2 separate regions of the Homo sapiens genome follow, and region 2 is linked to region 1. Evidence: fine-mapped expression QTL. A gene starts in region 1. The other region holds a variant in brackets. All regions are shown on one strand. Distances are from middle to middle.

What was found. PIP is the estimated chance that this variant, and not a neighbour inherited with it, causes the effect.
Region 2: its variant is fine-mapped to the expression of ZNF335 in whole blood (TOPMed, PIP above 0.99).

What each region holds. Positions count from the first base shown.
Region 1 is chr20:45,969,731-45,974,038 of GRCh38, reverse strand. ZNF335 (zinc finger protein 335) reads left to right here and starts at 1,836. Exons shown (of 28, transcript NM_022095.4): 1 at 1,836-1,917; 2 at 2,579-2,829. The coding sequence starts at 2,629. RefSeq lists an enhancer at 1,215-1,434 and a silencer at 2,205-2,324.
Region 2 is chr20:45,916,717-45,921,100 of GRCh38, reverse strand. No RefSeq gene overlaps it. Among named protein-coding and RNA genes, the nearest start is that of PLTP, 6.8 kb to the right of the region's middle. The variant A/G (reference allele first, on the strand shown) is at 2,564.

The DNA.
Region 1 (4,308 bases):
AAGCGGAGTTTCTCTCTTGTCGCAATGGCACAATCTCGGCAACCTCCGCCTCTGGGCTTCAAGCGATTCTCCTGCCTCAGCCTCTCGAGTAGCTGGGACTACAGGCGCGCGCCACCACACCCAGTGAAATTTTGTATTTTTAGTAGAGACAGTTTCACCATGTTGGCCAGGCTGGTCTCGAACTCCTGACCTCAAGTGATCCACCGGCCTCAGCCTCCCAAAGTGCTGGTTATTACAGGTGTGACCCACCGAGCCCGGACCTTTTCTCCTTATTAATAGGTCTTCTCCTTAGGACTTTTTGTTTGTTTGTTTGAGACAAGAGTTTCCGCTGTTGTTCCCCAGGCTGGAAGGCAATGGCGTGATCTCGGCTCACCGCAACCTCTGCCTCCCGGGTTCAAGCTATTGTCCTGGCTCAGCCTCCTGAATAGCTGGGATTACGGCATGCGCCACCACGCCCAGCTGCTTTTGTATTTTTCGTACAGATGGGGTTTCTCCATGTTGATCAGGCTGGTCTCAAACTCCCAACCTCAGGTGATCCGCCCGACTCAGCTTCCCAAAGTGCTGAGATTACAGGCGTGAGCCACCGCGCCCAGCCTGCTTAGGAGTTTTTTTGAGATTTTTTTCCCCCAAAATTTGTATCTTTCAATTAAGGAAAATAGCCTATGGAACTACAGAGACTTAGGGACAAAAACCAGAGCGCCTTACTCCCTCTTGTGCTCTTCCACTGCAAACTGCTAAAAGTCTTAAAACAGAAGGTGACATTTCCGGAGGAAGGACATACCTTAAGGGCAGCTGACTTTTAATTAAAATTTTTTTTCTTTCTCCACTTTTAAAGGATAGGTAGTTGACTTGTATTTATTTATTTTTTGAAAGAGGGTCTCGCTCTGTCGCCCAGGCTGAAGTGCAGTGGTGTGATCACGGTTCGCTGCAGCCTCAACCTCCCAGACTCAAGCGATCCTCCCACCTCAGCCTCCCGAGCAACTGGGATTATAGGCACGCGCCACCATGCCTGGCTAATTTTTCTTTTTTTTCTTTTTTTTGTAGAGATGGGGTCTCGCTCTTTTGCCCAGGCTGGTTTGGAACTCCTGGGATCAAGCGATTCTCCTGCCTTGGCGTCCCAAAGTGTTGGAATTACAGGCGTGACTCACAGCGCCCGGCCTCAGCTCTATTAATGTTAACAAATATGTATACAAACCTAAGGGACAAGCATTAACTTCTTTCCATTTCCCCGACTCCTGCCATCCGTACTTAGCTCCTGAGTCCCTTTATTGGATGTGATTTTGGACCAGCCCTTCCCATACCCAGACCTCAGTTTCCCTATCTGTACAATAATTATACATTCCCTTCCCAACAAAACACATCAAACCTAACGGGCAGAGCTCGATTGGGTTGCAGCAGCGCGCTAAGTAATAAGTAATGAGTCAGGTAAAATGACTGACAACATGAATTCCTCTTTGGCCAAGCCAAAGTCGCCCGCGGCCACACGCTCTTCCGGGCTGTTGTAGGAGGGGCGCGGCCAAGCCACCGGGAGCCACGCCCCCCACTGGGAGCCACGCCCCAAGAGAGCGGGGCGCGCATTCGCCGCGCCCAACCCTGCGGCCTAGGGAAGGGACCAGAATGACGTCACAACCACTTCCTACGTAACACTCCGCCGAGATAAAGTAGTCCCCAAACCATAGTGGGCTCAGTGCCAAACACCGGGCGACGTATAAAGTCCCAGAGTCTGTTGAGACCCGATTATGGTTTTGAGGCCTCGGAGCGACCTTCCGGAACACTGAAAATGTGTCTTTCCCGGGGCCAGCGGGGGAAGTAGTTCCGGCCTACAATAGGCCGATGGGTTCCTCCGCAGCGGAGGAAAGAGGATGGCGACCTCGTCGATGCCGGAGTCAGAGAGGAACGTGGCTACGAAAGCCTCGGGTGAGCTTCGGGTAGAGTTAGGCGGCCCCACCGTACCCTGCCGTGGAGTGAGGTCACACTGCGGGGATACCCGGAGGCGAGGTCCCAGGCCGGCGGGGCTGTCCGAACAGGGCCCCGGGGTCCCAGGCCCTTTAGTCGCTCTCGCACTTGCCTGAGCGGAAACCCGGCGCCACCACAAGATGGCGTCGGGCCTGGAGCACAGGCAGCGCCGGGGACAGCCCCAAATCGCCAGGCCCCGAGACCGTCGCTGTCAGCCGCCTCCGCAGGGGAACCGGGGGGGAGCGAACCACTGACCCAGGGGGCCAGCGGGCTGTACCACCGGCCCTGCAACCCGGGGGGACGCGGGGGCCGAAGGGCTGAACCACTGGGCCCGGATGGGGCTCACAGAGCGGAACGCTCCACGAGAATCGTGGGGGCGAGGGAAAGGGTCAAGATTACCAGCCATTGACCACCCTCCCGGGAAGGGCCTTAGCCTGGGAAGCACAGCTTCTCCGTCAAGTTTTTCCCGAGCTCCCCTCGCAATACACCAGGAAGCTCCGCCCCGTCGGAGACTCAATCTTCGCATCTGCAAAATGGGCGCAGGGGTGCAAATGGGTGGCCGTGGTTGCCGGGGCTGGGGAGATGGCCCACTTGTTCCAGCCACGGTCACCTCTCTTCTCAGAGTGAAGTTCCCAGACCCTACGCCCCGCTGTCAGGCAGCCCGCCGATCAGATGGAGGAGAACGAGGTGGAGAGCAGCAGCGACGCGGCCCCTGGGCCTGGCCGGCCCGAGGAGCCCTCTGAGAGCGGCCTGGGTGTGGGCACCTCAGAAGCCGTGTCCGCCGACAGCAGCGACGCCGCGGCCGCCCCGGGGCAGGCAGAGGCCGATGACTCTGGCGTGGGGCAAAGCTCGGACCGCGGCAGCCGTTCTCAGGTATGGACCCGGCTGGACGGCGTGGGTGGAGGCAAGGACCGCGAGCAGCAGTGCCTGACAGCCAAGAGGAAACAAGGCTTGTTTGTAGCTAATACTTGGTGTTTCTGGTTTACTGTGAGCCAGGCACCAAGCCAAACCCCTAAAATGGATTTTCTCATTTGAGCTTCATACCTTCTAAGACACATACCATTTTTTCCCACATCTTATAGAAAAGGATGCCGAGGTACAGAGTGCAGACAGAGCCAGGATTCAAATCTAGGCTGTGGTCTTAGCTACTATACTACCCACAGTCCTCACACTTTGAGAGGCAGATGTCTAGGCCAGGAGTGGTAGCTCATCGCCTGTAATCCCAGCACTTTGGAAGGCTGAGGTGGGAGGATCACTTGAGCCCAGGAGTTGGAGACCAGCTTGGGCAAATAGCGAGACCTCATCTCTACAAAAAAAAAAAAAAAAACGCAAGTGCCCTGGGTTAAGACTGGGTCCTGCCTCCAGTTTACTGGGAGACCTCTTTGAGCCTCAGTATCCCGGCTAAAGTAAAGCAGAAATACTTGCTTTCAAGGGTGCTTGATTGTGAGCTCCCACCAGACATCCTCTTGCAAACATTTTGTAAACCATCTCCTCCTGGCTGTGCCACTTCCTAGCCGTGTGATCTTGAGCAAGCTACCCAACATCTAGCTCTGTTTCCTCGTCTGTAAAGTGGGAATGGTAAATATACCTGCCTCATAGAGTTTTTGTGAGGATGAAATGAATTAACATATGCAAAGCTAATAATTAAAACAGTGCTCAGCACATTGTAAGCACTCAGTAAGTATTAGCCATTCTTATATGCAAGATAATGGTCATATTCAGTATATCACGTGATAGAAGTACACAGCAGTGGTCATCACTTTGGGGTCCTGGGGTTTCATTAGTTCAGCAGAGATGGGGGCCTACCATGTGCTCAGCGTGTGCTGGGCCCTGGAAATACAGCAGAGGAAAAGACAAGTTTGGTCCAGGCCCTTGTGGAGGGCACAGTCTGGCATGGAGGCTGTTAAAAGGCACAATGAACCCCACAGTGGTGTGGTGCTGGGGACACAGGCAGCTGCAGCACTGAGGATGAAGAAGTCCTGACTTGGCCTCAAAGCCAGCATTGACTTCCTAGAAGAGGTACCAGCTAAATGGTGGTGAGAAGGCTGGGTAAGATTTAGCCATAGGGTGATGCTGGGAAGAGTTTCAGGCAGAGGGAACGATTTATGCAAAAGCCCAAAGAAAATAGCTCCCCCTGGCTGTGGCTTAGGAGTCCCTTCTCTTATTTTTGTGTATTCCCTGATGAGATCCAGGGACCCTGTGACTTTTTCCTGGGGGACTCTGTGACTGGAGGGCCTCTCTCACTGGTCCTCCGTGGGGCTGAGGGCATGAGTGGCTCCACTGACCATGTCCTTGGGCCTGAGAGCTCTGTCTAGCAAGTGGGAGCTGGCAGGCTGCCCTGCCCCATACCCA
Region 2 (4,384 bases), 53 kb after region 1:
GGGAGCTAAAATATGGATCTAGCTGGGTGGAAGAGAGGAAGAAGGCCAGAGGGCGGTGACATCCTCATGATTCCTGGCTAGGGGTTGGCAATCTTGTTAGACCAAAGCCTGGGTTATGCGGGGGACTCCTGCAGTATTAGGACACCTGGAAAAATTCGAGTTGCATTATGTTGACCACTTCTTGCAACATTTCAGCAAGCCCTGCAGAAAAGGGACAAGCTTAGGCTGAAGATGGTGGCCTATCCTTATTATCAAAGGAAAAAATCCCTTCCTTTGGGGCCCCCTCCCTTCACTTACTTTGAAATGTTGTGACTGGCTTATGAAATCCAAACATCTAGACAGAGCTGCTATGGATCCTCCACCTCTTCCTCAAAACAAGTAGAGGCTGGAAAGCCCACGTGGAGTATAAGGAAAGCACAGACGGTTAGGAGGCTTAGAGGACCACAGAAAGAGGTCCCCATGAGTCAGAGTCAGCTAGCAGACTGACAGAGGCATAGAAACTGGGAAGAAGGGTGGGATATGAAGAAGAAAAGAAAAGGGAAGTCAGAGAGAGAGTGAGCTGCCCAAGGCTGACATCCGAGCCCTGATGGAGAGGCACCAGGTGTGGGGATACAATGCCCTAGGACCGAGGACCCAGGGAAAGCAACACCTCATAAGGAACCTTAGAATCCTTGAGTTTCTAATCTGGAGGTGACTTCAGACACCAAGTGGCCTGTTCTTCACACAGAAAATGGACTGGCCTTCAAGGAGGAAATGGGAAAGAAAGAAGAAAACAACAGATCTCCCAGCTTTAGAAATCACGGAAAGTCAGTCCACAGCTTTGGCCTGGCTGAACTCAGCAAGCCCCAGCCCTTTTAGATTCCTTTTACCCATTTGGTAAATGTCCAGCCCTCACGCGGACTGTTTTGTCCAGTTGCATTCTGGAAACAGATGATCATTTCGCCTGTCTGGAGAGATGTAATCGGGGTCTTCCTGGCCTGAGATTTGTCCTCCTCAGATAATCCTCCTCTCATTCCAGCTGGGTCCCCTGTCACATGTCCCCAGGTGCACCCATGCTGACCAACACAGGCGCATGAGCTGCAGTGCTCATATGCTCAGGCAGAGTGAGGAGAAGGGGGTCACTCCCTGAGGGGTAGCTGGGGTGGGCGTTGGGGGTGGGGACTGGGCAGGAGAGGAGATGGGCTGACGCAGCTTCTCCAAGCCATGCAGAGATCCAAAGAAAACACAGCTGGAGGCACAGCGAGGGAGGAGGGGGCCAGAGCAGTGCATGTTGACATGTTGGGCAGCAATCCAGCTTGGCCTCCTGTGGTCAGTGGAGCCCGTGTTTACTTCCTTGGACCAGTTATTTCCTCGTACTGAACCTCAGTTTCCAAATCTGCAAAACAGGGCCAATAATAGCTATCTCAAGGCACTGCTGTGAGAGTTACATGGGATAATGAAAAAGAGAGAGACAGAGAGAGAAACCTAGTTACAAGCATAGGCTCTGGGGCCAGACTGACTTGAGCTTATAACTGCTGGGCCTCAGTTTCCTTATCTGTAAACTGGGGGTGAGGATACCTATCTTGTAGGATGTTATGAAGTGTAAGTGAGTTAATATGTGGAAGCACTTTCTGGCCAAGTGTGGTGGTTCACGCGTGTAATCCCAACACTTAGGGAGGCCGAGGCAGGCAGATCGCTTGAGGCCAGGAGTTTGAGATCAGCTTGGTCTACACAGTGAGATTCTATCTCTACAAAAAAATTTTAAAAGTTAGCTGAGCATGGTGGTACATGCCTATAGTTCCAGCTACTCGGGAGGCTGAGATGGGAGGATTACCTGAGCCCAGGGAGGATGAGGCTGCAGTGAGCCATGATCGTGCCACTGCCTTCCAGCCTGGGTAACAGAGTGAGACCCTGTCTCAAAAAAGCACTTTCTGTTTGTTAAGCAACTATGACAACTATTAATACTAATAATCAGGCCAGGCACAGTGACTCATGCCTGTAATCCCAGAACTTTGAAAGGCCAAGGCGAGAGGATCGCTCGAGCCCAGGAATTCTAGACCAGCCTGGGCAACAAAGTGAGAGCGCCCCACCCCGCCACCAAGTACTAGGTTCCACACTTTGTATACTTTATCACTTTAAATCCTCACTGCCACCCAGGGAGGTAGGTAAGTACTAGATCATCCCATTTTACAGATGTGGAAACTGAGGTTCAAAAAGTGTTTTTTTTTTTTAGAGACAGGATCTTGCTGTGTCACCCAGACTGGAGTTCAGTGGCACAATCATAGCTCACTACAGCCTCGAGCTCCTGGGCTTAAGCAATCCTCCTGCCTCAGCCTCCCAAAGTACTGAGATTATAGGCATGAGCCACCATGCCTAGCCCAGAAAGAGATTTTTCATTTCCTCTGGAACAGGGGTTGGTAAACTATGGCCTGTGTGCTAACTCCAGCTCCCAGCCTGTTCGTTAGATATTGTTTATGGCTGCTTTCATGCTAAAGTGTAGGGCTGAGCAGCTGCGATAGAGACCACAGGGTGTGGAAAGCCTAAAATATGTACACTTTGGCCTTTTCAGGAACAGCTTGCTGAC[A/G]TTTGTTCTAGAAAAAGGCAGAAGCAGGACTTTGCTATCCTGATTCCTTTACAGGAACAGCTTGCTGACATCTGTTCTAGAAAAAGGCAGAAGCAGGACTTTGCTATCTTGATTTCTTACCAGTATTGCTGTGCTGGGTACACAACTGAGGCTGGAAAGGCACTTCCTTCCTGTCCCTCTGAGTGCTGGGAAGCCTCTCCTTCTCTCTTCAAAGCCAGGGATGAGGCCGGGCGCAGTGGCTCATGCCTGTAATCCCAGCACTTTCAGAGGCCGAGGTGGGAGGATTCCTTGAGGCCAGGAGATGGAGACCAGCCTGAGTAACACAGTGAGACCTCATCTCTACAAAAAAAAAAAATTACAAACATTAATCAGCCGTGGTGGTGCATGCCTATAGTCCCAGCTACTCAGGAGGCTGAGGTGGGAGGATTGCTTGAGCCCAGGAGGTCAAGACTGCAGTGAGCCAAGATTGTGCCTCCGCACTCCAGCTTAATAGGCAGAGCCAGACTCTGCCTCAAAAGACAAACAACAACAAAACCAGGAGTGAAAGTGGGAAGGGATTTGGGGATTTGGCTCTCTCCATGTCTCAAGCCCGGTGATGAGCACTCGAGGAGGCTGCCAGAGCCCATCCCACGCTGCACATCTGCTGACATCACTCTTAACGTTTGAGGGTTGTGTGCACCATATGTTTTAGAGGAAAAGGGAAATCAATGTATTAAAGAGGGACAGGCTGAGTGGGGAAGGCCCTGGATTCAGGGCCAGTGACTGCACCTTCTCCTCCACCAGCCCAGGTCAAGGCTGTATTTATTTATTTATTTAGAGACAGAGTTTCACTCTTGTTGCCCAGGCTGGAGTGCAATGGTGCGATCTCAGCTCACTGCAACCTCCACCTCCTGGGTTCAAGCGATTCTCCTGCCTCAGCCTCCCAAGTAGCTGGGATTATAGGCACCTGCTTCCACACCCGGCTAATTTTGTAATTTTAGTAGAGATGGGGTTTCACTGTTTTGGTCAAGCTGGTCTGGAACTCCTGAACTCAGGTGATCCACCTGCCTCAGCCTCCCAAAGTGCTGGGATTACAGGCATGAACCACTGTACCCGGCCGGTCAGAGCTGTGTTTAGGGTCAATTGAACTGAGGCTAACATGGTACAGGAGGAGATAAAGGATCTGGGTTGGCATAGGGATCGCCTGCTGCCCAGGGACATTCAAGGACTCCAAACCAGTTCAATCACTCAGTAAATATTTAGTCAGTACCTACTGTGTGCCAGGCATGGTTCTAGGCACTAAGGACACAGTGTTGAACAAAATTCCAGCTCTCACGGGGACAGACAACAAACAAGAAAGAAAATATTCAATAGTAATAAAATCTATAAAGAAAATAAACCAGGCTGATATGATTGAGAGCGATTAATAGATAGGCAGGCAGGGAAGGCCTCTCTGAAAAAACGCCATTTAAACTGAGACAAAATGCTGGGCGTGGTGGCTCGAGCCTGTAATCCCAGCACTTTGGGAGGCTGAGGCGGACAGATCACTTGAGGTCAGGAGTTCGAGACCAGCCTGGCCAACATGTGAAACCCCATCACTACTAAAAATACAAAATTAGCTGGGCGTGGTGGTGCACGCCTGTAATCCCAGCTACTCAGAAGACTGAAGTAGGAGAATTGCTTGTACTCTGGAGGTAGAGTTTACAGTGAGCCGAGATCATACCACTGCACTCCAGCCTGGGTGACAGAGCGAAGCTCCGTCTCAAAAAATAAATAAATAAAATAAGCTGAGACAAAATGACAAGGAAGATCAGGTGGAAAAGCATTCCAGGTAGAGGGAAC